Regions from separate parts of the Homo sapiens genome. Here regions 1, 2 and 4 are each linked to region 3. Evidence: fine-mapped QTL for protein levels in blood plasma. A gene starts in region 3. Each other region holds a variant in brackets. All regions are shown on one strand. Distances are from middle to middle.

Region 1 (8,105 bases), 79 kb after region 3:
ATGAAGTTTTAGGTAAGTACCAAGGCCTAAAGGGAATTATGGGAGGCATCTGAATTCTTTCTCAGTATTTTAACAAAATAATCTCCATATTTTGGCCTGAAATATACATAGAATCTGATGTGGGGTGCATTTAATTTAATTATGTTTATGGCTAGAGAGAGTCCTGGAGATGACTATCTTTGAAAATTTAAATTTACTGACTAAATAATTTAATAGCAATAGGGAAAGATGGGGCTTGATTGATGAAAATAGTGAAAATAGCCGCATGTGATGGCTCATGCCTGTAATCCCAGCACTTTGAGAGGCTGAGGCCAGAGGACTGCTTGAGCCTGGGAGTTTGAGACCAGCCTGGGCAACATGGCAAAACCCTATCCCTAAAATAAAAACACACAAAAAATGGCTGGGCATGGTGGCGCGTGCCTGTAGTCCCAGCTTCTTAGGAGGCTGAGGTGGGAGAATTGCTTGGGGCCAGGAGGCAGAGGCTGCAGTAAGCCGTGATTATGCCACTGTACTCCAGCCTGGGTGACAGAGCGAGATCCTGTCTCAAAAGAAAATAGTGAAAATATTTCCATATTGAGAGATTTAATGAAGTATAATATGGAAAAGAGGTTTTCTTTGTAAAAATACTAATATATTCAAGAATTTTACAATTGACCATTTCATTCAAAACTTATTTCTGTTAATGGAAGCCTGATCTCCTATTACCATATTCACTACAGCCTCTGTCAAATTAGACTGCCTTAATAACTATCCATGGGGAGGCCAGGCATGGTGGCTCACGCCTGTAATCCCAGCACTTTGGGAGGCCGAGGCAGGCAGATCACGAGGTTGGGAGTTCAAGACCAGCCTGGCCAACATAGTGAAACCCCATCTCTACTAAAAAAATACAAAAATTAGCCAGGCGTGGTGGCGGGTGCCTGTAATCGCAGCTACTCAGGAGGCTGAGGCAGGACAATCGCTTGAACCCAGAAGGTGGAGGTTGCAGTGAGCAGAGATCGCGCCACTGCGCTCCAGCCTGGGCAAAATGTGAAACTCAGTCTCAAAAAAAAAAAAAAAAAAGAAAAGAAAAGAAAGACCTATCCAGGGGGAATAAACCAATAAACCTCAGGGGAATAGGTCATATTTACCGCTGCCAGCAGTTTCTGAGGCTTCAGATGCAGTAGAAATGTTGTCTGAAAATTTCTCTTCTGTAGTATTCACGTAACTGAGGCTGCTTCCAATTCTATCTTCGACCTGCTCCATAGGATGGGCTGCAGTTCCAAATGAGTATTTTCCTCCATTCAAAACAGATGATGGCTCAATTACCACAGGGTTGGCATCCTAAAATCAGGAAATCAGAGAATAAGAAGCAAAGTTTATAATCTGACAACTATGTAGTCTTCAGAAACAAATCTCACAATTATCTATTTTTTTAAGTCTCCTGTGGTTGGCCACAGACATTTAAAAACATTCTAATACATAGCTATATTTTAATCTCTTTCAGGAGGAAAAGTATGTATATAGATAAAATTGGCAAGGTAGACAAAACAGACTGTGAAGGATTTTGTGCCACATAAAGTAATTTACACTCTATTCTGTTGGCAGCCATTTTTTTAACATTAAAAGTAAATAAAGCTTAAATTTTTTTCTTTTCTTCCTTATTTCCCATAGTACATGAATGTATATAATTTTTTTATTATTAAAGATTACATGGTCAATGTAGAAAATATAGAAAACATGAAGAAAATATCACATGTACTCAGATTCCATCATTTAGCAATAACTGTGTTTTAGTTCTTATGACTGAAAAATATGTATATATGTAAAAGATGAGTGGTGTATGTACATAGAGTGAAGGGCAATGCTATGACTTATACCTATGTGACCTTCTACAATAACTGAACACACCTTTAATCCCAGCACTTTGGGAGACCGAGGCAGATGGATCACTTGAGGTCAGGAGGCCAAAATGGTGAAATCCCATCTCTACTAAAAATACAAAAATTAGCTGGGGGTGGTGGAGGGCTCCTGTAATCCCAGCTACTCGGGAGGCTGAGGCAAGAGAATCACTTGAACCCGGGAGGTTGCAGTAAGCTGAGATTGCGCCACTGTACTCCAGCCTAGGCAACAGAGTGAGACTCTGTCTCAAAAAAAAAAAAAAAAAAAAAAATCATATTTTTTTCTTTCACCAAACATTGTATTGTTTATATAGTGCTAATATGCTAATCTAACATTTCATATTTTCTCTATTTCTCTTTTTAACAAAGAGAGAACAATCCTAAATAGCAGAGTCTTCAAAAGGCAACACTATTAGCTGGAATTTAATAATATTATTGCCTTCTATTTCTGGCAAGCGACACTAGTTTTCTTTTCTTTTTTTCTTTTTTTTTTTTTTTTGAGACGGAGTCTTACTCTGTCACCCAGGCTAGAGTGCAGTGGCGTGATCTCGGGTCACTGCAACCTCCACCTCCCAGGTTCAGGAGATTCTCCTGCCTCAGCCTCCCGAGTAACTGGAATTACAGGTGCATGCCACCAAGCCCAGATAATTTTTGTAGTTTTCATAGAGATAGGGTTTCACCATACTGGCCAGGCTGGTCTTGAATTCCTGACCTCAGGTTATCTGCCCGCCTGGGCCTCCCAAAGTGCTGGAATTACAGGCGTGAGCCACCATGCCCATTCAGTTTTTCTTTTCTTTTTTTTTTTTTTGAGACAGGGTCTCGCTATGTTGGCTAGGTCAGTCTTGAACTCCCGGCCTCAAGCAATACTCCTGCCTGGGCCTCCCAAAGGGCTAGGATTAAAGGCGTGAGCCACTGTGCCCAGTGGACATAAGTTTTCTACTTAAAGTAGTGATATAAAGTTTCCTTTGAAAATATGATTAAATAACTAATTAATCACAAACAGTTATAAATTTCTTTGTTCCTTGTCTGTTACCACTGCTTCACTTTAGTAGCCAAAAAATTTTTTTAAATTTTAAGTAAAAATGGCATAATTATTTATGTAAGTTAACTGTATGGCATTACATGAGAAAAATGGTGACCATAGTTTAAAAAAATGATTAAGAAGTAGGAATCTATATTACATATGAATTTTGGACCATCAATTTTTAAAATTTAGATGGTTCACCAAAGTAGTCAAAATTCTTTTTTTTTTTTTGAGACAGAGTCAAGCTCTGTCGCCCAGGCTGGAGGTCAGTGGTGCAGTCTCGGCTCACAGCAACCTCCGCCTCTAGCTTCAAATGATTCTCCTGCCTCAGCCTCCTGAGTAGCTGGAACTACAGGCACCTGCCACCACACACAGCTAATTTATGTATTTTTAATAGAGACAGGGTTTCACCATGCTGGCCTCAAACTCCTGAACACAAGTGATCCACCTGCCTTGGCCTCCCAGTGTGCTGGGATTACAGGCGTGACCCACTGTGCCTGGCCTAGAAACCAAAATCCTGTAGACAAGACAGTAGAACCAAAATGATCTATGTCAAAAAAGAAGTATAAATTAGTCCTAAGTGTTAATTTTCTTAAAGATAATATCAAGCTTCTCACAGCTTTTCTAATATGGAATTCATACCAACACAAAATACATGACATTTAAATTAGGTTTCTTTTTTCTTTTTCTTTTTTTTTTTTTTTTTAATTAAAACAAGTTTTGGCCAGGGATGGTGGCTCATGTCTGTAATCCCTGCACTTTGGGAGCCAAGGTGGCTGGATCACTTGAGCTCAGGAGAGTTGGAGACCAGCCCGAGCAACGTGGATAGATCCCGTCTTTACAAAAAAATATTAAAAAAAAATAGTGGGGCATGGTGGTGTGCACCTTTAGTCCCCAGTAACTTGAGAGGCTGAGGTGGGAGGATGGCCTCAACCCAGGGGGTGGAGGTTGAAGTGAGTTGAGATCATGCCACTGCACTCCAGCCAGAGCAACAGAGCGAGACTCTTTGTTTTTTTTGTTTTTGTTTTTTTTTTTGGTAGAAATGGAGTCTTACTGTATTGCCCAGGCTGGTCTCAAACTCTAGCCTCAGGTAATCCTCCTGCCTCAGTCACCCAAAGTGGTGGGATTACAGGTGTGAGCCACCTCACCTGGTTAAATTAGGTTTCAAAAGAAAATTTTCCATAAACATAAATGCCTTATTATTTAAATCAATTCAACTTTTTTTTTTCACTTATGCTTTTTGATTTTTTTAGTCTGGAGTATAGCAAAGGCTCTTTTTTTAATACAGGGTCTTGCTCAGTC[G/A]CCTATAGCTCACTATACCCTTGAACTCCTGAGCTCAAGTGATCCTTCCACCTCAGCTAGGACCACAGGCATGCATCACCATGCCCAACTAATTTTTAAAGTTTTCATAGAGATGGGGTCTCAATATGTTACCCAGACTGGTCTCAAACTCCTGGAGGATCCAAACAATCCTCCTGCCTTGGCCTCCCAAAGTACTAGGATTACAGGCATGAGTCACCCGGCCAAAGGCATTTTTTCATTTTTAAAGTTCTCTATGTGATCTCACTACATATGCAGCCAGAATTAATAACTATTGCCCTAGTGAGGATTATAGTCTCATGCATTTGTTTTTATAATGTGCTCCAGATGTTAAGAGCTTAGAAATTGACTTGTTATTAAATCTGCTACCTGCTCTGGAACTTGTGTTTTAGAAGAAGATTTAGATTTATTTAGTTTTCAGGTCATTTGCTTCCTGCCCATAAAGATGGAGCAAGACAGACAGCAAAACCATTTTGAAAGAGTAACAGCGCCACCTTTGAGAAAAATTAAAGTCTTCCAAGTCACTTTGTTTTCCTCCAGAAAAATCACTTTAGTTTTGCTATAAGTGATCTTAAATGATGTTTCAATAACCATCACATTTTTGGCAAGGTAATCCGTTTATAAATTTATACTCACTTCTATATTCCATTTATATAAAGTTGATGCATTACAAATTACTTTTTTTTTCCTTCTTTTTTTGAGACAGAGTCTCGCTTTGTTGCCCAGGCTGGAGTGCAGTGGTGCAATGTTGGGTCACTGCAACCTCTGCCTCCTGGGTTCAAGCAATTCTCCTGCCTCAGCCTCCGGAGTAGCTGGGATTACAGGCACGCACCACTGCGCCTGGCTAATTTTTGTATTTCTGGTGGAGACAGGGTTTCGCCACGTTGGCCAGGCTGGTCTTGAACCCCTGACCTCAGGTGATCCACCTGCCTTGGCCTCCCAAAGTGCTGGGGTTACAGGCGTGAGTCACTGCGCCCGACCACAAATTACTTTCTAAAAAATTTGTAGTAATATATTTTGAGGAAGATTGGGTCTATTTGAGCAAACAATTTTCTTCAAGTTTTCCTCTAAGATGGGCATGTAAGAGAATTTCAAGGAGTAATATTTGGAATTGTATCTTAAATGTTTTAACATGTTTGAAAGTCTTACATGGTGCCTATGTTTCTAAAGAAAATGTAAATGAAACCATTCCTGTAATAATGCTTCTCATTCTGAAGAGCTCAGTCCATAGGTTAAATCTATATATATCACTGGCAAGAAAACAGGATAATAAAAATATTACCAGGCATTAAATTTGCTAGGCTAAATTTTATAATAATTTGTGAACAGGATGATTCTAATAACTTCTCAGAGATTGCAACATTTGCCTCTAGCAACTGCGGTTCTACCACATGCTTTTAACATGGTACAGTGAGTAATAACCTTTAGACTTGGAGAATATGGGCTTTTCTTTGCTTCTCTTCCAATGCTCCAAACAAACTAGACTGGTCTGTCTTCTCATTGTCTTCGGCTTTCTTTTCTATTACAGGAACCTGATGCTCTCACTGTTCTCCACTGCCTGAAACTGTCAGCACAACTCAGGTTCCTTCTTCCCCTTCCTACACGCTTATTTTTCTTGTTCCTTCTACCCTTCTTGGCTTTCAGTGAAATAGCTACCTTTTCATCCGATTAATCTTATTACCACTTTCCTTCTATAAGATGAACAAACCAATCACAGTTATATATTGCAGAATCTTAGAGTCACTAGCTTTTTTTGACTGTTCATTTCTGGCTGCTTGCGGAAATTTTTGTTTTTCTAAAACATCAAAGGATCATGTTTTGTTTTTATTGACTTCAGGGGTCTGGAACTATTCAAAATTATCCTAGAACCCTGGTTTTCAGAAGATAGATTTCTAAATAGGTAAAGTTTCACCTGTAGAGAGAAATGTCCTCATTTTCTGAGTCAACAATTCACAAAAGGACTAGGTACTTATTTTAATATAAGAGAATTTTATTTTGAGATTTTAGGATTCCCTGTGAGTTGTATAAATAGTTTATGTGTTCTAAAATATGGGTCAAGATTCACCTTTTTCTCTATTGATGATACTACTACTTTTTATGCCCTGTACATAGGTATGTTACAAGAATCAATTAACAGTTATGTCAATTTCATATTTCACTAGTGACTGAAATGCTAGCTTTGGAAAAATAGAGGGCAGCATGGAGCAACAGATTAGGTACTAAGGCAGGACTCAGGACACTGAGCTCTAGAGTGCTAGATAAAGTAATAAAATAATTGTCTGATACAGCTTTGGGCAATTATAAAACCTAAGGACCTCAGAGGCTTCATTTGTAAATTCAGAGAAGAGAGGTGTTTCATTCCTTTTATTTCCCACTCAACTACACATGTCTGAGGCAGGAAAACAAGGCTGCCCCACTCGTGGCAGTCCTGACGACGATCCTCGAGGGCTGCTCTTGGCCTCCAGCCTTGGCTAAGGAGAACAGGGACCCCCCAAAGCCCATGGGAGAGAGGCACGAAAGGTGATTTAAAGTATCTTCTAGCTCTAAAGTTACGTGATAACTAAATAGGAAAATCTGCATGTGAATAGTAATAGCTGCTCCTTCATAGTTCTCAAAAAGGAAGATACACATTATGTAATGTAATAATGATAGAAAAGATTTCACCATTCTTCCCCATTTACATTTTTTTAGGAGATTACACATAGAAGAATAAAGCTTGACACATTAAAGCGGGGAAAGACTGGTAAGATTCCATGAGCAGAGACACAATCAAATTATTCATGCTCCAGTGAATCAGCAAATCTGGGGTTAGCCACTTCTAAGAAAGGATGGCTCATTTTTCCTGATCCCTTGGTCTCTGATCTTTCCATTTAGTCTTGCCAGTATTTGAAACATACTACCCTCACAATTAGTAATATTCGTAAGTAAATATGTCATTTTATGAAGAGAAAAAATTAAAGCTAAGTACTCTCTTAGGTAGGCAGATGAAGCTCTAAGATCAAATTATCTGACATGTCAACACTAATTTTCTTTTTCTTTTTTTTTTTTTTTTTTTTTTGAGATGGAGTCTCACTCTGTCATCCAGGATGGTGTGCAGTGGCATGATCTCGGCTCACTGCAACCTCTGCTTCTTGGGTTTAAGCGATTCTCCTGCCTCAGCCTCCCAAGTAGCTGGAACTGCAGGCACACGCCACCACGCCAGGCTAATTTTTATATTTTTAGTAGAGTCGGGGTTTCACCATGTTGGCCAGGCTGGTCTGGAACTCCTGGTCTCAAGTGATCTGCCTGCCTCAGCCTCCCAAAGAGCTGGGATTGCAGGTGTGAGCCATTGCACCTGGCCCAAATTTTTTTTTTTTTTTTTTTTAAACAAGGCGTTTGTCAAAGTGGCCACATGGACTGGAAAGAGAAATTTGATTTTTTTTTTTTTTTTTTTAAATACAGTCTCATTCTGTTGCCCAGGCTGGAGTGCAGTGGCATCATCTTGGCTCTCTACAACCTCTGCCTCCTAGGTTCGAGCTATTCTTGTGTCTCAGCCTCCTGAGTAGCTGGGATTACAGGCATACACCACCATACCCGGCTAATTTTTGTATTTTTAGTAGAGACGGGTTTTCTCCAGGTTGGGCAGGTTGGTGCTGAACTCCCAGCCTCAAGTGATCTGCCTGCTTTGGCATCCCAAAGTGCTGGGATAATAGGCGTGAGCCACCATGCCTGGCATGAAAGAAGAAATTTAAATCCTCATATAACTACTGCTACTACTACCACCATTATTACCTTTAACCTTATATAGAGTTTCTATCTGCCAGGCACTGGGCTAAGTGCTTCACATGTATTAACTCATTTAATTCTCACATCCCTACTTAAATAGATATTACTATTAATCTCAT
Region 2 (8,105 bases), 21 kb after region 3:
CGAATGAATGACAAAATGGGGAATTGAACCCAGATCTGCAAACCCAGCAGTCCTTGCTGCTTCCCTTATACTGAGTGCTGCTGGCCTCCAAGTGTTTCTTGTTCTGTGTTTCTACATGGACGCTTACAGGGAAGCATGGGTGCAGAAATCGCCAGGCCAGTCAAGGACGCTGGGATGTGTGCTGACCCTAGCCCTGGAGCGCTCTCCCCCACCACTCCCCGCAGTCTTGCTTCCTCTTGTGAAGTCTACGTGCTAGCCAAGACCCAGCCTGTGAGGCCTGACCTGATCTCTGCTCCTTGTCTGCTCCCCCAGCAAGAGTCCCTGAGGAAAAGAATGGGGAATCACGTCTTAGTCATCAGAGCATCGAAGTGCCCAGGCCAAGGCTGGCCACAGAGAGGGAGGGCAGGTGGCAAATGTTTGCAGCACGAGTGAATAAAAGGAAAAATGATAGCAAAGAATGGAACTACCAGGCACCATTCCAGGGCTGGGACTAAATATTTACCTTGCCCATTGGGCAAAGATAAGCCTGGTTTTCCAGGCTCTATTTATGCCAGCTTTCCTTCAGGGGCTGACACAGTCAACCTGGTATCATTACAGCTTGAACAGCGGTTTCCACATGTGGGATCTGGGTGTACAAGGTGCTTGATTCTCAGATTCTGCTATTCCCTAGCTCCATGTGTCTTCCCAGTCCTTGAGCCCTAGGTGGCTTTGCACCTCCATTCTGCTGCCTGGTCTGTCCCCAGTCTCCATGAGGCTATTGAATCGGGGTTCATTCTACTCTAGATGAAGCTGTGTATCCTCGTTTAGCCCCTGAGGTCAAGCCACATCAGGAGCTGCTTACAACATGACAGGACAGACTTGCCTGGGTCTACTGCCTCAGTGGCCTCCTGCGAGACACCTCTCTTAAGGGAATAGGGTTGGGTATGACAAGCTGGGTCCAAGTGAAGCTTCAGAGATGTAGAGATGTAGAGATGTAGAGATGTAGGGGAGGAGGGACTCTGAGTTCAGTGTGGCAACCACTCAGCCTCTGGGACTCACACCAGGGGCATAAGGAGAATGGAAGCCGCATGTGGAAAAGGGAAGGGTAATTTCTTTTTATTTTTTGGGGGGGCGTGGGGAAGGGTGATTTCTTTTTTTCGGGGGGGAGGAGGAGGTGGGGAAGGGTGATTTCTTTTTTTGGTGGGAGGAAGTGGGGAAGGGTGATTTCTTTTTATTTTTTGGGGGGGAGGTGAAGAAGGGTGATTTCTTTTTTTGGGGGGGGCAGGTGGGGAAGGGTGATTTCTTTTTTTGGGGGGGGCAGGTGGGGAAGGGTGATTTCTTTTTTTGTGGGGGGCAGGTGGGGAAGGGTGATTTCTTTTTTTGGGGGGGCAGGTGGGGAAGGGTGATTTCTTTTTTTGGGGGGGCAGGTGGGGAAGGGTGATTTTTTTGGGAGGGGGTGGGGAAGGGTGATTTCTTTTTTTTTTTTCGGTGGGGAGGTGGGGAAGGTGATTTTGTGGAAATACGAACAGCTCTGCTTTGGGAAAGCCTTCGTGGAGTGTGAAGGGAGCAGTGAGCAACTCTGGCCCCTGGTGTCCTGCCTGGGAGGCAATGCCTAGAGGCAGTGGTCACGTTGGGTGAGGGGTGCCCAGAAGATCGGGTGGTCCCTCTCAGAGGACACCACGTGGCAGCTGAAAGGACTAGTTGAAGAGCACACTTGAGATACCCTCTGGAGGCTGCCATCAGTACTTTGAGGGAGAGTGGGTCTTTGCAGGGGGATAAAGGAGAACCAATGAAACCTGAGTCATTACAGCGAGTGACCTTTCACTGAGCCTGAGGCTGCTATAACCAGGAAAACACAGCCAGTGTGGAAGCAGATTCACAACCAGGCACGGTGACTCGCGCCTGTAATCCCAGCAGTTTGGGAGGCCAAGGTGGGCAGATCACCTGAAGTCAGGAGTTTGGGGCCAGCCTGGCCAACATGGTGAAACCCCATCTCTACTAAAAATATAAAAATTAGCCGGGCATGGTGGTGCATGCCTGTAATTCCAGCTACTTGGGAGGCTGAGGCAGGAGAATCTCTTGAGCCTGGGAGGCGGAGGTTGCAGTGAGTTGAGATCATGCCACTGCACTCCAGCCTGGGCAACAGAGAGAGACTCCCTCTGTCTCAAAAAAAAAAAAAGCAGCAGCAGCAGCAGCAGCAGCAACAGCAGATTCGCAGATTCATGGAGATACTACTGCTTGGAATTTGGTGATGCTTCAGGGAGTGGGGCCGGAGCTGGCCTATGCTCCAGACAGGCATAAACTATCAACGTAAACACAATTACACCTAAGCCTCTGCAGGCATGGTGCTGATGCTGCCCCCTCCCAAGGGGGTACCATCTGGGTGGGTACAGGCCCTGGAGGCTGACTTTTTTATTTTTTTTAAGATGGAGTCTTGCTCTGTCACCAGGCTGGAGTGCAGTGGCTCAATCTCGGCTCACTGCAACCTCTGCCTCCTGGGTTCAAGTAATTCTCCTGCCTCAGCCTCCCAAGTATCTGGGACTACGGGCATGCGCCACCATGCTCAGCTGATTTTTTTGTATTTTTAGTAGAGATGGGGTTTCACCATGTTAGCCAGGATGGTCTCAATCTCCTGACCTCGTGATCCACCTGCCTCAGCCTCCCACAGTGCTGGGATTACAGGCGTGAGCCACTGCCCCCGGCCAATGCTGACAATTTTCAAGTCAGCTATGGAGTTTGAATTTTCCTCCAAATTTACACTGGCTATTTCCCCAGTTCAAATTAGGCCTGACTGGTTTCTCTTTCTCTTTCTTTTTTTCTGAATACATATCAGTTTTGGATTGAGGCCTAACATTTCCACTACCATCCAGAGGAGAGATGAGAAAACCAGAGTTGGGCTCTTAATCCCAGGGGAAAAAACAATGGGCTGCTCTGGAACGCTGCAGAGTCAGGGTTGAATGAATGCAGGAGCGGGGCAGGCAGCTAGGGAGTGTGTCGGCCACGTGATGAGCCTGCCATGGTGTCCAGATGGACATGTGGTATTTGGTTTAAAGCCCACGCTACTGGGGC[A/T]TAAACAGCTGAGGATAAATGATCAGACTCAATTGTTCTCTCCTTTCCCAGGAAAGGCCAGGAAGGAAAAGGCCCCAGTTTAAGGGAGAAGGCATTGTCCTCAGTGGATGAAGCATAGTCAGGTAGCCCGGTCTGGCAGGGGGCCAGTGGGGAGCACGAGATTCTCATGGCTGCTGTGGCTGGTGGCCGCCTTTACAACAATAGCATATTGGACTCCTGTCCTTCCCATCCCACCTCTGAAATGATCACACCCATGTTAAATCTCTGATAAGATACTATCAGATACTCCAAAGTCCAGTTTGGAACTACAGTCTTTGCTTGACTCAATCCAGAATCCTTTCTCTCTCCCTGGTCCTATCTCCCCATCTAATCCCCCTCAATTCTTCTTTCTATCCAGCTGCTAAGGTCCCTGGGCCATCAGAAGCGAATAGAACAAACCTAAGACATCACTCTCCATCAAGAGGCCTGCATGACTCTTTATTTACATCATCTTCCAGGAAGAGGAGGAGGAGCTGCTTTGGGGACACCCACTTCCTCTCCTTACGTAACAACACACTGCATTTGCACAAGTGTCCTTGGTTGTAAAGGGTTCCACACTCACTTTCTTATTCAGGGCTTATTACAAGCCTCTCAGGTAGCTATGGTCATGGTACCCTGATCCCTTGTCAAAGATGAGCCCACTGAGGCTCAGGGTGACTACCGTTGTGCCAGGAGTTGCTAAGTGGTGGATCACAGACTCCAGTTCAGGGGGAGGTAGGGTGGTAAAGAAGCAGCTGGATGAACCTGGGTTTGAATCCTGCTCAGAAATGTTCCATCTGTGTGACACCACAGGCAAGTGACTTAACCTGATTGAGCCTCAGCTTCCTGATCTAGAAAAAAGGGTGATCATGCATCCCTCATAGAGCTGTGGTGAGCATTTACGAATCACGAGTGAAACATGCATAGCATGGGGTTTGGCAGATAGAAGTCCAGTAAATGTCTAAGCCCATCTCCAGCGTTTCTTCTGGTTCCAAGCTCAGGACTATCCTTTAAGCTAAGTGGTAGATACTCAATGAACGTGTTTTGGATGATTTAGCCCTCTCCTTTCCCCCATCCCTCCCCAAGTGAGAGGATGTTTATTTGCAGCTCTGTGCTGCAGAGAGCTCTGCAAACAAGGATTGGCAGCAGTAACTTTCTCCAGCTGGCACAACAATGAAAGGCCACAGGCCCTGGGGCTGCTCCCTATGGATGTCCAGGGAACAGAGGCCAGGCAGCAGGCTGACTGCTCCGGGCACTCCCTGTGGCTTCTTCACTCTAGCTGGCTACCCAGTATACTGAGTAGCAAAATGGCCTTTGAAAAGGCCCACCCTGTGGCCATGATTTCTAGCAGACCAAATGAGAGTGTTCTCCTGGGAGCACTGTCAACTCCTCTTGCTGGAGACAATTCTCTGGGAGCTCCTCAGACCCTACTGGAGCACTGTGTGCTTGGCTTTCTGAATGCTTAGAGGTGACAGGTGCTTTAGCAGACATCCAATCCACAGCGGTTGCCCAGGCAGCACTACACCCCCCACTGTCACTTCAACCGGAGTAACTCCAACCTCATCTGCTTTAGCTATGGGTCCTTCAGGTAAATGTGGCTGGAATGGCTGGAAGAAAGGGTCGGGTCTCAATGTTGTTTCAAAATAAAAGCTGAAGACAACTGACCTAATGCAACTCGCTCAATATTCACAGGGGGAACCGAGGCGCGGACAAGGCAAGTGACCCCCAAGGTCATACAATTCTGCCAAGTGCTGAGCAAACACTGCGGACTGGACTTCTGGTCTACTGCTTTCCATGGCATCAGCTAAGATGACTGCTCTGAACCTGGGGCTGCGGCAGCCTCTGATGATGGCCGTAGGTATCTCCTACTCCATTCTGGAGGCTCCCTGCTGATCCCTAATGTGGAAGTCCCCCTCTTCCTCCCCAGTTTGTAATCCCAGTGGGCACTGAGGTTTGGCCATCAGCAGCAGAGGATCCTGCTACAGATAACTGAAGGGTGGTACTGAAAAAACCATCAGATCAGCAGAGAAGCCCCGTCCCCTTATCCCCAAGGTCCTTGGACAACTCCTCCAACCAGGCACATTTTTCCTTCCTGGGCTGCACTCAGCTGTGACTGGGCTCCTCTCTCTGGCATGCCTCCTCCCTGTCCAGAGCTCTTCTAGGTTTTCCCCCTTCTGCCTCCTTTTTTCTTCCTCCTCCACTTCCTTCAGTCTTCTTGGGGCATTTCAAGCCTAGCACCCATCTGTGAGTTCCTCTTGGGCTTGTTGGTAAGGTCTAAAGTTTGTTATCAAGAGAAATTCCAGCCAAAGTGGATTGTGAATATGAAAAAGAGAGAAATTACAGCAAACAGAACTTATGTTTATAATAAAATGGTCTAAAATAGATACATATGTGCCGTGTGGTGGCTCACACCTGTATTCCCAGCACTTTGGGAGGCTGAGGCGGGTGGATCACCTGAGGTCAGGAATTCGAGACCAGCCTGGCCAACATGGTGAAAACCCGTCTCTACTGAAAATACAAAAATTAGCCAGGTGTGGTGGCGTGCGGCTGCAATCCCAACTACTTGGCAGGCTGAGGCAGGAGAATCACTTGAATCCGGGAGGTGGAGGTTTCAGTGAGCCGAGATAGTGCCACTTCACTCCAGCCTGGGCGACAAGAGTGAAACTCCGTCTCAAAAAAAAACTAAAATAGGCCGGGCACAGTGGCTCACGCCTGTAATCCCAGCACTTTGGGAGGCCGAGGTGGGTGGATCACCTGAGGCTGGGAGTTCAAGACGAGCCTGACCAACATGGAGAAACCCCATCTCTACTAAAAATACAAAATTAGCTGGGTGTGGTGGCTCATGCCTGTAATCCCAGCTACTCAGGAGGCTGAGGCAGGAGAATTGCTTGAACCTGAGAGGCGGAGGTTGTAGTGAGCTGGGATCGCTCCATTGCACTCCAGCCTGGGCAACAAGAGCGAAACTCCGTCTCAAAAACAAACAAACAAACAAACAAAAAAACTAAAATAAATAAATACATAAATAAAATGGATATGTATTTATACAAACCATAGAAAAATGTTTGGCAACTATCCCAAGATACCTGACAATGTGAAATACTTTTATTACAACTGGCCTGACCTTCAAAGGCCTTCACAGCTCCTGCCTTCCTGTTACAGTCTACTATGTTCCTCATGCACCTTCCACTCAGCACAAACAGGCTGCACTGCCTCTGAAACGCATCACTTGAATCCTGCCTCTGCTCCTTTGTCCATCTGAATCACCCTCTCCACATTTCTGACCCAGTAATCCTAATCTCACTTTATGAGGCAGTTCGCTTCCCTTTTGCATTTCCCTGGGGTACACTGTCAATAGCCTAGTGTCTGATGTCATCAGTCAGCACTTCATCAGAGGCAATTATGTCTACAGAGCTTTTGGCTAATTACTGTCACTCCTTACATGTGTGCATATGCATATCATCTTTCCCTAATGAGACTGGAAATAATGATTCATTCCCTGGAGCAGTGGTTTCCATAAATGACCAACCCACAGACCAGTGCAAACTGGCTGTGAAAGAGCTTCCTCTGAGGAACTTATTAGAATGCAGATTCTTGGACTGCATGGGAGAGGAGGATCTCATAAATCTGGGTGTAATAGGCACAGAACATTAGGTGTAATATGGGCAGGACTCTGGACTCAGCATATCCAACAAGCTGCTGGCTGATTCCGATGATGCCGATGAATTGCCAGGTTGGGAACTGTTGCCCCCAGAGAAACTAGCAGAGAGCTCTGTACGTGGTAGGTGCTCACTCCCCTATTGTTTGGGTGTATGCCTCCTGATAATGAACTTGAACATAACATTATTGTTATATTATGCCTGTATTGTTTCCTTAAGTGAGGGAAGAATGCTTTTGAGTACCTAATAGGTGGCAAGCTCTGTGCCTACTTACATACATGATCTATTCCTTTTAATAACCTTTGGAAATGAAGTGGTATTTTCACTGGGCGTTAGAAATCTGAAAACTTTCGTTTACAGCTGTTGCAACAGCAGAACTAGAATGTGACCTCCGACATAATGGGCTCAAAGTCTATGACCTTTCTGCTCACCAGAGGGCATGAACTGCTGGTTTGTACCTGGCTTGCAGATACCTTCTTTGGGCAGCACAATGTTCAAAGTTAAAAAAATTTACCAACACTTCTAAACTGGATACTTTGTATTAATATCTGGGTTTCTGGCTTCTCTTCATGGGAAAAACAAAACAAAACAAAAGGTTTGGTGAACACTGGGGCCCACATTCCTGCAGGACAACAGTCACATGGAGCCTTTAGATGGGCATGTGCCTAGAACACACTAGAGTCCCCATCGCTCCCCATTCTCTTACATTCTATTCCCAACCAGGTTCTTATAGGCCTGGGTTTGTGACTGCTGCACACTTATCTACTCTCTTGCTTCCCACTGGTCAGGAAGTCTGGCAAACTTAAAAGGCCTCTTTTTGTTGCTCTCTCCTGTATGGATCTCTGATCATAGAGGTGTGTGCATTTCTGTCTTTGTGATTTCAATACTAAGGAAGCCGTTGGTACATTATCAAGAGAAACTGGGATCGCCACTCCCCAACTTACACATTCTGGTGTGTCCCAGTAAAATTCTGTACTCAGCCTCCAAACTAGCTGGGAAAAATGTGGCAAATCATCTACTTGCTCCAATTCAATGGTGTTTAGAAGTAAGAAGTCACTGTGAGCAATGCCACCAAGTGGTGGAGAGACTCCATGCAGACTCACCACCTTCAGCCAGGGAGGCTGGGAGGCCGAAGACCTCTCTCAACGCATAGGGCCATTCAGAAACTAGAAACAAAATGCTTGCCCATCTCCCTAGGCCAGTCCTTCCGAGGCTTTTTGAGACAAGGTCTCACTGTCACCCAGGCTGGAATGCAGTGGCACAATCAAGGCAACCTCAACCTTCTGGGTTCGAGCGATCCTCCCACCTCAGCCTCCCGAGTAGCTGGGATGACTACAGGCATGGGCCACCACACCCAGCTGATTTTTTTTTTTTTTTTTTTTA
Region 3 (8,105 bases):
GCCGCAGCTTCCTCTTCTGTAACTCATAGAAGTAACAGAGGATCCCTACCTGCTTCTGGGGTCGAGTGACCCTCTCTGAGAATGTTCCCCAGTCTATAAAATTAAGATCTTGATATCTATCCCGCACCAAAGGAAAGATCAGTCCAACCTTCCAATCCTAACAGACAAGCCCTGTCTGGTCCCAAACCCCTCTCCAGCCTCACCTCCATGCCTTTTCTCATTCTGTTTCCTTCACCTGCATCTCCCTTCCCTTTTTAAGTTAAAGTCTACTTTTCTTTGAAGACTCAGTGCGGGTCTGATCTCTTGAGGGAGGCTTCCCCAGTCTCTTTCCTACAGGCTGGGTTAGGGGCTGCTCCTCTGGGCTCCTGTGCTGTTCTGGGCATAAGGCCACTGTGGCCTTAACAACTAAGAATTACAGCTGAGGTTTACTGAGCACTCAGTAAGTGTCCAGACAGGCCCTTCACCCAGCATTACCTTGTGGAATTTTAACCACGCTCTTGTGAAGGTATTGCTGGTTTTCTTTTTTTCTTTTTTTTTTTTTCTTTTTGAGATAGAGTCTTGCTCTATTGCCCAGGCTGGAGTGCAGTGACACAATCTCAGCTCACTACAACCTCTGCCTCCTGGGTTCAAGTGATTCTCCTGCCTCCACTTCCCATGTAGCTGGGATTACAGGCACCCGCCACCACACCTGGCTAATTTTTGTGTTTTTAGTGAGACGGGGGTTTCTCCATCTTGGCCAGGCTGGTCTCGAACTCCTGACCTCAAGTGATCTGCCCACCTCGGCCTCCCAAAGTGTTGAGATTACAGGCATGAGCCACTGTGCCCGGCAGCTGCTGTTTTTATTTCTGCTGTGTTTTTTGTTATTTTGGTTTTTTTTTAAAATCATGGTCGAAGGCTGGTGATTTTCCTGATCAGGACACTGAGCCTGACGGGGGTGAAAGCTGAGTGTCGGGTCTGGGATGTAGACCCCGGGCAGTGTGGCTCCTACTCCTATTCTGACCCTCTGCCTGATATTCTCTCTGCCCTCCTGCGACGCTGAGCATAAGGTATGATAGGTTTCTGTTTAGGGCAATGTATTTGACCTTCCCCTGAGCTGTGAACCCAGGGGTGCAGGGTCTCAGCTCCCTTTGTGCCTCCACTCCATGGCTCTCACAGTTCCAGCGGGAGCTGCATCTGAACCTCATGTTCCCAGGTTTACAGTCAGGGCTCTCCTCCTTGCCCTTGGGAGCCCAGGAAGAGCCTGGATGTGCCAGGGCCCCTCTCCAGTGCTAACTCAATGTTCCATCCCACCCAATGCTGCCTCCACACCTGCCTAGGGTCAGATTTAATCCAGCTAAGGGGACTCTGCTTAGAGGTCATGGCCACATGTGCCAATGTGCCAAGCCGTGGGCCCAGCCTCCTCAGACTTTAGCTCACTGAGGCCTCAGGGCAATCTTTGAGAGAGATTGGGGGATGATTTCCATTTCATAGATGAGGAAAACTGAGGCTCAGCTGCCATCACAGAGCAAGTGGATGGAGCCAGAAGTGACTCCAGGGTTATGTGTCTCAAAGCCCCTTAGCTTTCCCATGGCCTCCCTTCTGTTCCTGACAGGGCCATGCGTGCAAACATCCCCAGAGGACAAGAGTGTGATTAATCTTTGCATCCGCCATGGGCCAGTGGCTACACCCAGGCACTGAGAGGCCGGTTGTGAGAGTCTGGGCTGGGCAGGCCCTGGTTCACAGCAGACTCCAAATAACTGTTTATTGGTGGAGGTCAGCCGGGCAGGGATTACCATCTCCAGTTTATAGATGAGGAAGTTGCAATCAGCCGGGTGCAGGAAAGTTGCCCAAGGTCATCCGTGAGTCAGAAGAAGAGCAAAGACTTGAACTCAGAACACTGGGGGCCTCTGCAGAGTAAGAGGAAGGAGGCTGGGGCTGCTGGGCTGGGCTCTCCCACTCAGGTGGCCTGGGCTGGCAGCTTTATGGGCCCTGTAAGTCGCTGGGACATGTCAGCACTCATTCCAGCTCTAACGACCCTAAATCAGGCCTTGTCCCCTACAGGTAAGCAGGGCCCCAGGTAGTCTAAATAGTGACAGGTGACTGGTTTATGGCAGGCCAGGACTGGGGTCAGGGCTGGAGATAAGGCTGAGAATGTTAAGACCAGGAACAGGAAGAGAGGGCCACTCACCCTGTGTAACCTTGAAGTTAGAGATGGCAGATGGAGCAGGAACCAGTCCACCACCCCATCGCCAATGTGCAGGCTCTGTGGTGCCCATAATTAAGATGCACCCATAAGAGAGTGTATAGCTTTACCCCTCCCGCATTCCTCAGAGGGGATGCCCTACCAGGGACTCGTTCTCCTCACCCATCTTTATGGTCCCAAAATGCACCCAGGGCCCCCCTCTCTCCTGGGGGGCCTGAATGCAATGAACTTTAAAGTGGATCATTGATCAACAGTCCCTTAACCCCACCAAAGTTTCCCAAGCCTCTCCCCTGCTCATCAGGGGGCTGGCCAGAGGTCACAGGGACTCCCTGGGGGTGGTTTTTATTCCCAGGAACAGGCTTCCTCAGTCCTGAAAGGGACATTTTTATAGCCCTGTGAACACAAATGCACTCCCCAGAATAGGCTCTGGGTGTGGAATCCCTCCTGTGGCTGTCATGGTCGCAGGCTGGTGATTACATTATACAGTGGTGTTGACAATAGAGCCCTAAGCCTGGCATGGACACCCCCTCACCTCCCTCCTGCCTCTCTGTAGGATCAAAGCTGCTCTGTGAGGCTGTGTGATCCTGGGCCAGGAGCGGGGAGTCAGCCTCAACCCTAAGCAAGGAGGAAGCATCTTTGCCTGAATCCTTCTGGGGGAGGCAATCCCCCTTCAGAAGTCCCTAGCCCAGGTTCGAAGGTCGGTAGGGACTGAGAGGTTGGCAGCGGATGGGGAGTGGCTAAACCAGAAAAAGGGGGCTTCCTGTTGATGGATTGATGGAGGAGGTCCAGGTCCACTGCCTGGTTCCCCGTCCCTCTCCCGCACCCCAGCCTGAGCTTCCCAAACTCCCACAGAAGCCCCCACCCCATGTGGGACACAGAGGACCTGCAGTAGCAGGAGGGCACAGCTAAGAGAGGAGACAAGAGGCAGCTTGGGGGCATGGGGGGGACCCCATTTCCCCAAATGTTGGAGCCGCCCTTAAGGGAACTTCCCCTGGACTCCTCTGGAGGTCTTGCCAGATGGGAGAACCAGGGGTCCATTCAGACCCCAGTCTCTTCTCTTCCCATCTCATCTCTCCACCTGGGGGGCTCAAAGAACCTAGCTCCTCCCCTTTGACCCCATCAGCTTCTCCCTCACCGAATCCTCTTACAATCCATTTCTTAATTCTGCCCCATCAACCCTCCCTGGTCATCACATAAACACCAGCAAGGGCAGTAGTTTAGGGACAGCTTTGCTCTGTATTCGAAGAAAGGTCTTTGGTCTGCTTAGAAATTAAGTTTGGAGCAGCCTGGGAGGAAATAGAAGAGATGAGACCCAGAGAATCAATGGCCACTGCCAAAGAGAGATAGGAGAGCCTTTCTGCGGCCACTGATTCAACAAACGGCATCACACGCCCCTCAGCCTCTCATCTCTTCGAGGCCATCTCCACCCCCACCCCCACCCCCACCCCAAGGCCATTCCAAGGTCCCATTCAAGACCACTGCGCAGGGGTGGCGCCAGAATGATCAAAGTCATCATGGGGCACTCATCTTTGTGTGGGTCAAGCACTTTGTGGTGTCGTGTCCCTGTTCCCAAACCAGGGACCAGGAGTAGGATGGGGGAGGGGCAGGGCGCCGCTGCTGAGTGGAGAGGACGCGGAGTGGGTGAGGGGGCCTTGCGCACAGGGCAAGAGGTGGCCAGGCAGGGCGGGGGACCGGGGAGAGCGGAGGATTTCAGATGAGGGACAGGGGAAGGTGGAGAGGGGAGGGCAGGCCCCGCCAGGGGGAGGAGCCGCCTCCCGCGTCCAGCTGTCGGGGCTCCCTCCCGTCGCGGCTCCGCTATAAAACCCAGGCCGGCAGGATCGCTGCACCCGCGGCGGCCTCCTCGGTGCGCGACCCCCGGCTCAGAGGACTCTTTGCTGTCCCGCAAGATGCGGATGCTGCTGGCGCTCCTGGCCCTCTCCGCGGCGCGGCCATCGGCCAGTGCAGGTGAGCTCCCGGGCTCCGGCCCCAGGTGCCCCTCGGCGGTCCCCTCCGTGCCCCCAGCTCCCGCCCCTGCAGAGGATCCCCCCGCGGGCGACCGGTGAGCGTCGGTGGCGCTGGGGTCCCGGGTTGCGTGTGCGCCGGGGGCCGCGAGGGTGCGGGAGGACTGGGCAGCGCGCGAGCTTGTGTGTGCACACGCGTGTCAGCACCGGCTGGGGGAGCGTGTGCACGGGTGTGCGCGGTGAGGGTGTGTGCGCGTGGCCCGGCGAGACGAGTTGGGAGTCCCTGATAAGGATGCGTCTCAGGCCGGGCGCGGGTGCTCCAGCCTGAAATGCCAGCACGTTGGGAGGCAGAGGCGGGTGGATCACCTGAGCCCAGGAGTTCGAGACCAGCATGGCCAACATGGTGAAATCCCATCTCTACCAAAAATACAAACATTAGCCGGACGTGGTGGCACACGCCTGTAATCCCAGCTACTCGGGAGGCTGAGGCCCGAGAATCGCTTGAACCCAGGAGGTGGAGGTTGCAGTGAGATCACGCCACTGCACTCCAGCCTGGTGCTCCGTTTAAAAAAAAAAAAAAAAAAAAAAAAAAAAAAAAAAAAGGATGCTTCTCGGACCCGCCTCAACGCACGCCTTCTTTTCTCACCCAGCCTCCTCCGTCTGCCCGTGGGTTTCCGTCCGTCCCGCTGGGACTCAGCGCTGGGTGACTGCCCCGCGGCCAGAGCAAGGGCGGTCTGGCAGGGTCCTGGAAGCCGCGCTTCCCACACGGGTTCCTTGCCCCTGAGGGTCGCAAGCTCCCCTGGCCTCCCTAACCTCCAGCGCTGAATTGGGAGCCTGGCGGGGGCGGGGGGTGGGGGACCCGGAGCCCCAAGGCCTCTGCGGAGCCGGTCTTTCCGGACAGGGTGATTTTCGTTTAAAGATTAATGGTGAAGCCGAGCTCTTAATTATTCCTCTAGGTGGGAGGTGGCAGGAAAGGCATGTTAATATTTGATAAGAAGCTAAAGGCGCTTCAAGCGGCTGGGCACAGGGATCCGATCCTGGAGGCACCTTCTTTGCAACCCCAGACCCCATCACCGGAAGACCCCCTCTGCCAGTTCTCAGCCCAACCACCCCTCGGATGGTTCTTGGGGTCCACGCAGGCTGAAACCTCCTCTCCCAAGTTAGGTGCTCCATCCTCAAAGCGGCGGAGTGAGGGGTGAAGGTGTCCTCTGCACAGAGAGGAGCCAGCGTGTGCCCTTTGCAGCAGGGACTGGCTGAGCTGTCTTAGAGGGTCGAGGGGCACCTTGCAGCCTCTCCACCGGGCCCCTGGGAGAAGAAAGAGAAAAAGCAGAATGTGGAAACTTTTATTTGTAGGGTTGGACATTGGAAACCTACTAAGCAGCTAGAAAGTAGAAAGAGAAATGCTTTGCAGTTCTGGTGCTTTGTAGCTGTGTGGTCTTGGGTAAGTCACTTCCTGTCCCATTTGCAAAACAGGTGTTGTCATTCTGACTTCAGGGGTTTTAAGCGTTTGAATAAGATAATGGGTTTAAGTGATTAGTGCGGTGCCTGTGTGGCACGTGGCTGGTGTGTCATATACCAAGTTTATGGGGCTCTCCCCCAAGCCTGGGGCCAGTGTCAGGAATGTGTCTCAGCTCACCCCTCACACAAGCTGCTATCCCCTTTAGTGCCAAGGCTTTCTGACTGGGACCTGCCTTCCATTCATCTTATGGAGGACTCAAGCTGAGAAGGGACCAGGTTGCATATGGCGACCCCCAGAGCATCTCTGTCCATTGAGACAAGAGGCCGGGTGAGGATATTTGGTCCCCTTCAGAGCCCCAGACCCCTGGCCGGGAGCGACTGAGACTTTGCCCAGGAAACACTTGGGTTGTGCTGAGCTGTTTTTCAGGATTATCCCCTGTCCCTCAGAGGGGGAGGTGGGGTGAGCAAGGTCCATTAGAGAGGCTTCTTCAGCCATCTTGAAATAAGGGGGAGGGGTGGCAGGTCAGTCAGTGTGGGGGGCAGTAGCTGGGTGACAGGCGACTGACTTTCGGTCTCTAACCTCTGGTCAGGGTGGATGGACTAGGTAGGATGTGGCGCTGGACACCGAGACCTCTGGGTAGGTAGCCCCTCTCCTTCCCAAGCCCTCTTGGGAGTGGCCTGAGTCAGTGGGCTGGTACTTACCTGCAAGGGTGGCCCTCTCATTCAACGAAGACAGGAACCTGAGTGGTGGGTGCTCCTGCCACCAGCACCCCACCCTCATCCACCGACATGGACCTGACCCCTGGCCTTGACCTCACCACCATTATGTTTTCCTGGCTGCTGCTTCCTGAAGAAGGTAGTTACAAGTGCGTTCAGCCAAGCAGGTCAAAAGTCTCCATGATTAAGACAGTGGATCACAGGTCACCACTACAAACCTAGGAGCTGCGGCCAGAGCCAGGGAAGACCAAATTCCTAAGAAAAGCTAAGCCTGGACCAGATGGGCCCCAGGGAGGCTGTGAGGCGAGTTACAGGGGGCTCCACCCTTTGCAGCTGGCTCTTGGGGATGCTGGCTGAAGGGAGGCTTCTCCTGGAATGGCTGCCCCCGGGCCCTCCAGTCAGAGAAGAGGCCAGCCCAATCTTCAAAACCCCTTCCTCCTTCAAGACCTCTGCGGGTGGGGACATGGGATGATTATGGCAAGGAACTGTCATGGTGCAAATGCCCTCTGATTTATTATCTCCTTAGTCACCAGCACTGGGAATTTGGTGGCTGCACCTGTCAGAGGCGTTTGAACCAGAGTGACTCCATTTTGGGTGAGAGCTAGGAAAATGAGGCCGAGATTTGCTGGGCTGCATTATCAGAAAGTCAGGCATTTCTAGCCTCTAGATGTTTGCAGTTAAGGGAACAAATTAATAATATTTACTACACAGACCCAGACTTGGGAAGGTCCAGATACTCCGATATCTGGAGAGCAAAGGCATTCCTAATTTTGCTTTAAAAATAATAATGTTGGCTGGGCACGGTGGCTCACACCTGTAATCCCAGCACTTTGGGAGGCCGAGGCGGGTGGATCATTTGAGGTCAGGAGTTCGAGACCAGCCTGGTCAACATGGTGAAACCCTGTCTCTACTAAAAATACAAAGATTAGCTGGGCATGGTGGTACATGCCTGTAATCCCAGTTACTCAGGAGGCTGAGGCAGGAGAATTGCTTGAAACTGGGAAGTGGAGGTTGCAGTGAGCCAAGAGCCCACCACTGCCCTCCAGCCTGGGCAACAGAGCGAGACTCTATCTCAATAATAATAATAATATCAATTCTTGGATAATGTAGTAATTAAGAAAATTAATCCTTTATCACAAACCCTTGTAGCAGAGCACATGTCCCCATATATACAACGCATTGAATGCATTCCTTCCTTCTCTGACTTTTGGGAATGTCCTACTCTGTCTATGGAGTAGCTGTCCTTTCACCACTGTACTTTCTTAATAAACGTGCTTTTCCTTTGCACTGCAGACTCAACCTGAATTCTCTCTTGTGCAAGATCCAAGAACCCTCTCTTGGGGTCTGGATCGGGACCCCTTTCCTGTAACATGCCTTCTGTCAGAGGAAGATTATGGGACTCAGAATGTCAGATAACTCCCCTGTGGAGACTGAGCAAAGGCAGAGCGGGAGCTGGAGGCTTCGGAGCTCTGCCCCACTGCTGGGGTGGCGAGTGGCCACTGCCCTCTGCAGAATCCACCCACATGGGGGTGGTTCAGGTGCAGCAACTCCCAGGGACAGCAGAGCCCTGCCCGGGGCTGGGGATGGGCCATCAGGGGGAGGACACTGCAGCTCTGAAAAAGGCGATGCCAGCAGGGAAGGAGAGGCAGTGATCAGGGCAGGGAAACTCCAAAGCCCAAAGCAGCTCTTCGTGGCCAGTTAGTTTTCCTGGGGATGCTCCCTCATGGCTCCTTCCCCATCCTGTCCCCACTCCGGGGACTCTACCCTGGCTTAGACTACAAGAAGAT
Region 4 (8,105 bases), 97 kb after region 3:
CACGCCTGGCCAAGGGTTTCCTTTTAAAATATCAATTCCATTTTACTGATCTCTATGATTCTCCTTATTCCAGTACTTGATTAATGTATCCTTAGGTAAATTGTGAAATCAGGAAGTCTAAGTCTTCTGTTTTTTGTCATTTTTTTGAAGTTGTTTAGGCTAGTCTGAGTTCTCTGCATTTCCCTATACAATTTAGGAATAGCTTGTCAATTTATAGAAAAAAGCTGGGATTTGATTAGGTGTGTTTTGAATCTATAGAACAATTTGAGAAAATTGCCATATTGACAACAATAAGTTTTCAAATCCATTTACGTACATTTTCTTAAATTTCTGTCAGCAATGCTTTGTATCTTTCAGTGCACAAGTCTTGCACTTCTTTTGTTGAATTTGTTTCCAAGGGTTTGATTTCTTTTGACAATATAGTGAATGGAATTGTTGTCTTCTTTTTAATTGTACTTTCAAATTATTCTATCTAGTACATGACAATTCAATTGATTGCTTAATCATTGATCTTGTATCCTGTCATGTTGCTGAACTCATTTTATTAATTCTAACAGTTTTTCTGTGAATTCTTCAGGGTTTTCTACACATAGGATCATGTTATCTGCAATTACAGACAGTTTTATTTTTCTTTACAATCTTGATGCCTTTTATTTCCTTTTCTTGCCTAATTTAACTAGCTTGAAGCTCTAATACAATGTTGATAAGTGCGGCAAAAGCAAGTATCCTTTCCTGATCTTATGGGAAAAGCCTTCAGTGTTCTACCATTAAGTATGATCTCAGCTGTATGTTTTTCAAGATATTTTTTAGAGTGAGGAATTTCCCTTCCCCAAAGTTGTGAATGAGCATGACTGTGCTCTAGTAAAATGTTATTTATGTACACTGAAATGTGAATTTTATATAATTGTAAGGTGTCACAAAATATTTATCCCCTTTTGGTTTTTTCTAAGCCACTTAAAACGGTAAAAACATTTTTAGCTTGCAGATTGTACAGAATCAGGCAGTGGGACAAAGTTGGTCAATATGCCATAGTCTGCTGACTAACTGCTGGCCTAGTATATGGTCTATCCTAGAACAATACTCTGTCTACATTTGAATATGTATTCTGTTGCTGTTGGCTGAAGGGTTCTGTTGGTGGGTGCATATATCATCATTTATCATAATAAAATGTCTCTCTGGCTCCAGTAACTTGACTTTTGTAACCTAAAAGCCATTTTCTTTTCTTAACAGTAAAGTGATTTTAGTTCACGTATGGCTATATTTGTATGGTTTTATCTTTTATTCTTTTACTTTCAACCTATTTGTGCCTTTGAATCTCAAGTAGCTGGATTGTGTTTTTTTTTTTTTTTTTTTTTTTTGAGATGGAGTCTAGCTCTGTCACCCAGGCTGAAGTGCAGTGACGCGATCTCGGCTCACTGCAAGCCCCGCCTCCCGGGTTCACGCCATTCTCCTGTCTCAGCCTCCCGAGTAGCTGGGACTATAGGCGCCCACCACCACGCCCAGCTAATTTTTTTAGTAGAGACCGTGTTAACCAGGATGGTCTCAATCTCCTCACCTTGCAATCCACCCACCTCGGCCTCCCAAAGTGCTAGGATTACAGGCATGAGCCACCGTGCCCAGCCAAGTAGCTAGATTTTTCAAAAAACAAGTCAGTCTAAATCTTTGGCTTTTGATTATCTGTTCAATCTGTTTATATTTAAGGTAAAAACAGATGTGGATTTATGTCTGCTATTTAGTTTTTTGTTTTCTATGTATCAAGTCTATTTGTTCCTCTATTCCTCTAGTTCTTTCTTTTGTGGTAAATAGGTATTTTCTAGGAATTTAAATAGGTAACATTTTAATGCCTTTTTAAATAAAACTATTTTGGGGGATCATTTTCTTAGAGATTGTTGTAGGGTTTACAATATGGATCTTAACATAGTCTACTTTATTGTTTATTTTACTTTATGTTTTTGAGATGTCATCTTGCTCTGTCGCCCAGGCTGGAGAGCAGGCGTTCCATCTCAGCTTACTGCAACCTCTGCCTCCTGGGTTCAAGTGATTCTCCCACCTCAGCCTCATGAATAGATAGGGTTACAGGCACGCACCACCACGCCAGGCTAATTTTTGTACTTTGAGTAGAGACGAGGTTTTGCCATGTTGGCCAGGCTGGTATCGAACTCCTGGCTTCAAGAGATCCGCCTGCCTTGGCCTCCCAAAGAGCTGGGATTACAGGCGTGAGCCATGGCACCCAGCCAACATAGTCTACTATGTTTGATTGATACTAATTTATTCCAGTAAAGTATAGAAACTAAAAAAGTGTAGAAACTAAAACATAGAAACTTTGCTCAAATATAGCTCCCCTTCTACTCTCACCTTTGTGCTATTGTTGTCACTCATATAAGATCGTTATATGTAATGGGAACAACATGGTTTTATAATTATTGTCATGTAAAAATGTCTTTTAAACCAGTAAAAAATAAAATAAACAGAATGGTATATTTATACTGTCTTTTATTATTACCTATGTAATTTCTACTATTGGTGCTCTTTATTTTTTTTTTTGGCAGTTTTTATGGTTTTATTTAAACATAAAACATGCATATGAGCTGTCTATTCATTTTCTTCACAGGCTGGCATTGGGATTGGTGACTCTGATGGCCAGCTGGGCTGCTCTTTCCACAATGTCTTTGCAGTTCTTGGAGGAAACACTGTGGGCAATCTCAGCACACTTGTTGCACGTCAGCAGCACTTCCAGCTCCTTGACATTGCGGACCAGGAAATTCTGGAAGCCACTGGGCAGCATGTGGTTTGTTTTTTGTTGCTGAACCTTCTACAAACTCTGTTGTCAATACCTCTGGGTTTCTGTCAGTTACACTTAGTTTTGACATATCAGTGTAACTGGTGCTGGATGAAATTCTTGGTTCTCTTTTTGATGATCTTGGACTTCACAAGGGGTCTGAGGGCAGCTATGATGCCAAGTAGGAGATGGCTGCCACCTCCGTAGGCAGCGCCAAGGAAGAGAGCCTCTTTATTTGTTCATGTGGATGTTAATAACCGTCTGGTGTCACTTATTTTCAGCTTGAAGAACTTCCTTCAGTATTTAAAGACAGATTTCCTGGTAACAAATTTTCAGTGTTCATATAGGAATGTCTTTAGTTCACCTTCTTTTTTTTTTAATGTGTTTTTTTTTAAAAAGCTTTAAAAATATTTCTATTAAAAAATTATATATAATAATAGTATATGTTTTTGGGGTACATGTGATATTCTGATATATGCATACAATGCGTAATGATCAAATATGGTAATTAGGATATTCATCACCTCAAATATTTATCATTTTTTTGGGTTGGGAATATTCCGAATCTTCTAGCTAATTTGAAATATACAATAAATTATTTTTAACTATAGTTACCCTACTGTGCTATTAAACACTAGAAGTCATTCATTCTATCCAACTGTATTTTTACAGTCATTAACTAACCTCTCTTCAATATTATCCCTCCTGCCCTTGCCAGCCTCTGATAACCATCATAATACTCTCTAATTCCACGAGATCAACTTTTTTAGCTCCCACTTAAAAGTGAGAACACGTGATATTTGTCTTTCTATGCTTGGCCTATCTCACTTAACGTAATGACCTCCGGTTTTATCCATGTTGCTGCAGATGACAGGATTGCATTCATTTTATGGCTGAATAACATTTTATTGTGTATGTGTGTGTGTATATATATATATATTTTTTTTTTTTCTTTATCCATTCATCAACTGATGGACACTTAAGTTGATTCTGTATCTTGGCTATTGTAAGTAGTGCTGCAATAAACACAGGGGTGTAGATAGCTCTTTGCTTTACTGATTTCCTTTCTTCTGAATATATACCCAGCAGTGGGATCGCTGGATAATATGGTGGATCTATTTTTAGTTTATTGGGGCACCTCCATACTGTTTTCCATATTGACTGTACTAATTTACATTCCCATCAATAGTGTACTAGCACTTCCCTTTCTTCACATCCTCATCAGAATCAGTTATTCTTTGTCTTTTTTATAATAGCCATTTTAACTGGGAGATAATATTTCATTGTGGTTTTGATATTTCGATTATGATTAGTGATGTTGAGCATTTTTTCATATATCTGCTGGCCATTTGTATGTCTTTTTTTGAGCAATGTCTATTCAGATCACTTGCCCATTTTTAAATTGGGTTATTTGGTTTTTTGTTATTGAGTTGAGGCCTTTATACATTCTGGTTATTAAAACCTTGATGAATGGATAGTTTGCAAATATTTTCTCCTATTCTGTTGGTTGTCTCTTCACTCTGTTGACTGTTTCCTTTGCTGTAAAGCTTTTTAACTTGATGAAATCCTGTTTGTCCATTTTTGCTTTGGCTGACTGTGCTTTTGAGGTATTATACAGTGTCATACCACTCAGACAAATGTCCTACAGCATTTCCCCAATTTCGTCTAGTAGTTTAGGTCTTAGATTTAAGTCTTTGAATCCATTTTCTTTTCTTTTTTTTTTGAGGCGGAGTCTCCCTGTGTAGCCCAGGCTGGAGTGCAGTGGGGCAATCTCGGCTCACTGCAACCTCCACCTCCCGGTTTCAAGCAGTTTTCCCACCTCAGCCTCCTGAGTAGCTGGGATTACAGGCGCCTGCCACCATACCCAACTAGTTTTTGTACTTTGAGTAGAGATAGGGTTTCACCATGTTGGTCAGGCTGGTCTCGAACTCCTGGCCTCAGGTGATCCAGCCGTCTCGGCCTCCCAAAGTGCTGGGATTACAGGCATGAGCCACCTCGCCCAGCCTCTTTAATCCATTTTGATTTGATTTTAGTGTATGGTAAGAAATTGGGAACTGGTTTCATTCTTCTGCACGTGGATATCCAATTTTTCCAGCACCATTTATTGAAGAGATTGTCCTTTCTCTAATGTATGCTCTTGGCATCTTTGTCAAAAAAGAGTTGGTTGTAAATGTGGGGGGTTTTGCTTGTTTGTTTGTTTTGGTTTTTTTTT[T/G]GTTTGTTTGTTTTTGAGACAGAGTCTCATTCTGTTGCCCAGGCTGGAGTGCAGTGGCGTGATCTTGGCTCATTGCAACCTCCACCTCCCCAGTTCAAGCGATTCTCCTGCCTCAGCCTCCTGAGTAGCTGGGACTACAGGCATGTGCTATCACACCTGGATAATTGTTTTGTATTTTTAGTAGAGACGGGGTTTCACCGCGTTAGCCAGTATGGTCTCAACCTCCTGACGTCATGATCCACCTACCTCAGCCTCCCAAAGCACTAGGATTACAGGCGTGAGCCACCACGCCTGGCCTGGATTTATTTCTGGGTTCTCTGTTCTGTTCCATTGGTCTATTTGTCTGTTCTTATGTCAGTGCCATGCTGTTTTGGTTACTATAGCTTTGTAGTGTATTTTGAAGTCAGGTAGTAATTCACCTTTATTTCTGAATTACAGTTCTGCTAGATAAAGAATTCTGGATTGACAGTTTTTGCTTTTTTGGTTTTTTCCTTATATCACTTTCTCATATCACTGCACACTGAGCTCTATTGTTTCAAAAAGTCAGCTGTTTATCACATTGTGGTTCCCTTCTACATGATGAGTCTTTCTGCTCTTGTGGCTTTCAACTTCTTCCTTTGTCTTTAGTTTTCAACACTTTGACAATGATATGTCTAGGTGTGATTCTTTCTGTGTTTAACCTAGTTGGAGTTCATTAAGCTTCTAAGATTAATAATTTTCGAGAAATTTTAGAACTTTCAGACATTATCTTGTCAAACTTTTTTCTGCTTCTTTCTTTCCTTCTGAGACTTTCATTATGCATATTTTGGTAGACTTGATCATGTTCCAACTTCTGTGAAACTCTGTTCATTTATTTGGTCTTCTTTCTCTCTTTCTGATGAAATAATCTCTATTGATCCATATTCTGTTTTGCTGAATATTTCTCTGTCAACTCAAATCTGCTAGAATTTCTATTTGATTCTGTTTTAAATTTTTATTTATTTATTGCTATTTTCTATTTGGACAAGTCAGTGAGATCATACATTCCTCTAATTCTTTAAATACAGCTTCGTTTAGCTCTTTGAAAACATTTACAATAGTTGTATTGAAGTCTTTGTGTGCTAAGGAGAACATCTGCTGCCACCTCTGAGACAGTTTCTACTATTCTTTGTTTTTTCCTCGTATATGGGTCACATTTTCCTGTTTTATTCCATGTCTCATAATTTTTTCTTGTTGAAAACTGAACACATTTGATACTTTATATTAGCAACTCTGGATTCTGAACCCCTGTGTGTTTTGTTTTGTTTTACGACTTCCTGGAACAATTCTGTAGAGTTTATCTTCCGGTACAGTATCTTGCAGTGTGAAGCTGCTCAGTTTCTTCGTGTTTTCTTTTTTATTATCTGTTTTTATTTTTAAGCTTGGCCTTCTTGGGGTGAGCCTAACTTACTGGTCAGCCAATGACTGCTGAGAGGTTGTGCTCTCAGCAGTTTACTGGTTGTGTTTAGCCAGTAACATTCACACCCTTTTCCTGATGGATCTGTACATGGTTTGGGGAATGCATTTAAAGTTTGGGCAGGTTACAAGCCTACCCTGGCTTTTACTTTCTGCACATGCAAGGCTTCACCTTCAACTAGGGAAGAATAAAGTGCTAAAGCCCACTTTGGTTTCTCCTGAGTTTGTGTATAGCCTTGTACAAGCAGTCTACAGATCACTGGGGACATGAGAAAGCTTGCTAAGGCTCACTATGGTGATCCTGTTCCCTGTTAAAAATTTGACTGGTCTGTTGTTAGTCTGCTGCTTCCCCTAACCAGTATTTTATCCCCAAGCTGGTGATGTCAGTTTTCCCTCACTGTTTACCACCATGATGGTATGTATTTATTTTATTATCCTTGGACAGGCATTTATTCCTGCTCTCCTTCAAATCATGAATCAGACTGACAGCCCATGCAGACTTGCTGGATGGGAGGAAATGAAAGCTGCTCCTGGTTAAATTACCACACACTTCCATTGTTCTCACCAAGGATTAGTAGTTCTTGAATAAATGCTTCTCAATTTCTTGTATATATTTGGTCAGTTTCCAGAGTCCTGAAATGGTTGTTTGACAATTTTGTTCAGTTTTTTAAGTGCTTTTGGGGAAAGGGTTGGCTGAGATCTTCACTCGGCCATTCCAGAAATCACGATACTTTTTTTTTTTAACAACGTACTGACTGTAAGTTAGAGACAAATATTTGTTTCACCTCATTGCATATGAACCAACCTGAATCATCCTTTAAAAATTATCACAGTCAAATGAATTTTTATAAGTAATAGTAGAGGCAAAATAAAATAAAACTGAAAATGAATAAACAAATTTTAAAAAAAACCCACAGATGAAATGAACCCATTTGGAACCAACAATTTTAAATCTAGACTTATTAAAAAATACAAAATACAAAAGGCAAATTATTGGTACTTTTAATGAAAGAGGTCCTAAACTTGATTCTGCCAGTCCCATGTAATTTCAGGTCCTCAACTTCTATAAATCTTGGTTTCCACTTTTACAAAATGAGAGACACTAATTTCATGCAGTTATTCTAAGGACCAGATGAGATAATGTAACTACATGTATTTTACAAAGAATAACTTTCTATGAAAATATAAGATTATATCAACCTTATTTTTTGAAATAGGGATGCTATGAGTAGTTGTAAAATAAGCCAATAAATATAAATATAGGCTATAAAGCATTATTTCTACCTATGCTAAGTGATATTTACCTCAGAATATATTACTATAATAAATTAGATTGTAATATTCTAAGAAAAAAAGTCACTATAGCCACATAAAAGCCTTTATGTATGTCCTTACAATATCTGGTTTCTACATGTCAATTATTTTAAAATCCTACGTTAATATATTTTAAAATCTTTTAGTAGCTAAAAACTAGAGACAATCAAGAAAACACTCAAGAATATCAAGACTGAGTCTTCTGAGTATGAATATTTAAAAAACTACATGAAAGTTGGGCACATTGGTGTACACCTGTAATCCCACCTACTCAAGAGGCTGAAGTGGAAGGATCTCTTGAACTCAGGAGAGTTCAAGACCAGCCTGGGCAATACAGTGAGACCCCATCTCAAAAGAAAAACCAAG

Direction of the effects. Alleles are on the strand shown, and positions count from the first base shown. The strength of an association depends on the size of the effect and on how common the allele is.
For the plasma level of the protein whose gene starts at base 4,028 in region 3, A is the low allele of the variant in region 1 and G is the other (moderate association).
As copies of A replace T in region 2, the plasma level of the protein whose gene starts at base 4,028 in region 3 goes up (moderate association).
For the plasma level of the protein whose gene starts at base 4,028 in region 3, G is the high allele of the variant in region 4 and T is the other (weak association).

Evidence for each region. PIP is the chance, under the fine-mapping model, that this variant and not a neighbour inherited with it causes the effect. The UK Biobank Pharma Proteomics Project read protein levels with antibody pairs (Olink). The fine-mapping took linkage between variants from a reference panel, not from the people measured, so its PIPs are less certain.
Region 1: its variant is fine-mapped to the plasma level of the CA4 protein (UK Biobank, PIP above 0.99).
Region 2: its variant is fine-mapped to the plasma level of the CA4 protein (UK Biobank, PIP above 0.99).
Region 4: its variant is fine-mapped to the plasma level of the CA4 protein (UK Biobank, PIP above 0.99).

Annotation. Positions count from the first base shown.
Region 1 is chr17:60,224,912-60,233,016 of GRCh38, forward strand. USP32 (ubiquitin specific peptidase 32) reads right to left here. Exons shown (of 34, transcript NM_032582.4): 13 at 1,128-1,320. It also overlaps SCARNA20. Among named protein-coding and RNA genes, the nearest start is that of CA4, 79 kb to the left of the region's middle. The variant G/A (reference allele first, on the strand shown) is at 4,204.
Region 2 is chr17:60,167,106-60,175,210 of GRCh38, forward strand. It overlaps a transcript of CA4 not described here and the pseudogene FAM106DP. Among named protein-coding and RNA genes, the nearest start is that of CA4, 21 kb to the left of the region's middle. The variant A/T (reference allele first, on the strand shown) is at 3,049.
Region 3 is chr17:60,145,946-60,154,050 of GRCh38, forward strand. CA4 (carbonic anhydrase 4) reads left to right here and starts at 4,028. Exons shown (of 8, transcript NM_000717.5): 1 at 4,028-4,147. The coding sequence starts at 4,090.
Region 4 is chr17:60,242,696-60,250,800 of GRCh38, forward strand. The region is part of intron 11 of USP32 (ubiquitin specific peptidase 32); the gene reads right to left. It also overlaps the pseudogene RPL32P32. Among named protein-coding and RNA genes, the nearest start is that of CA4, 97 kb to the left of the region's middle. The variant T/G (reference allele first, on the strand shown) is at 4,992.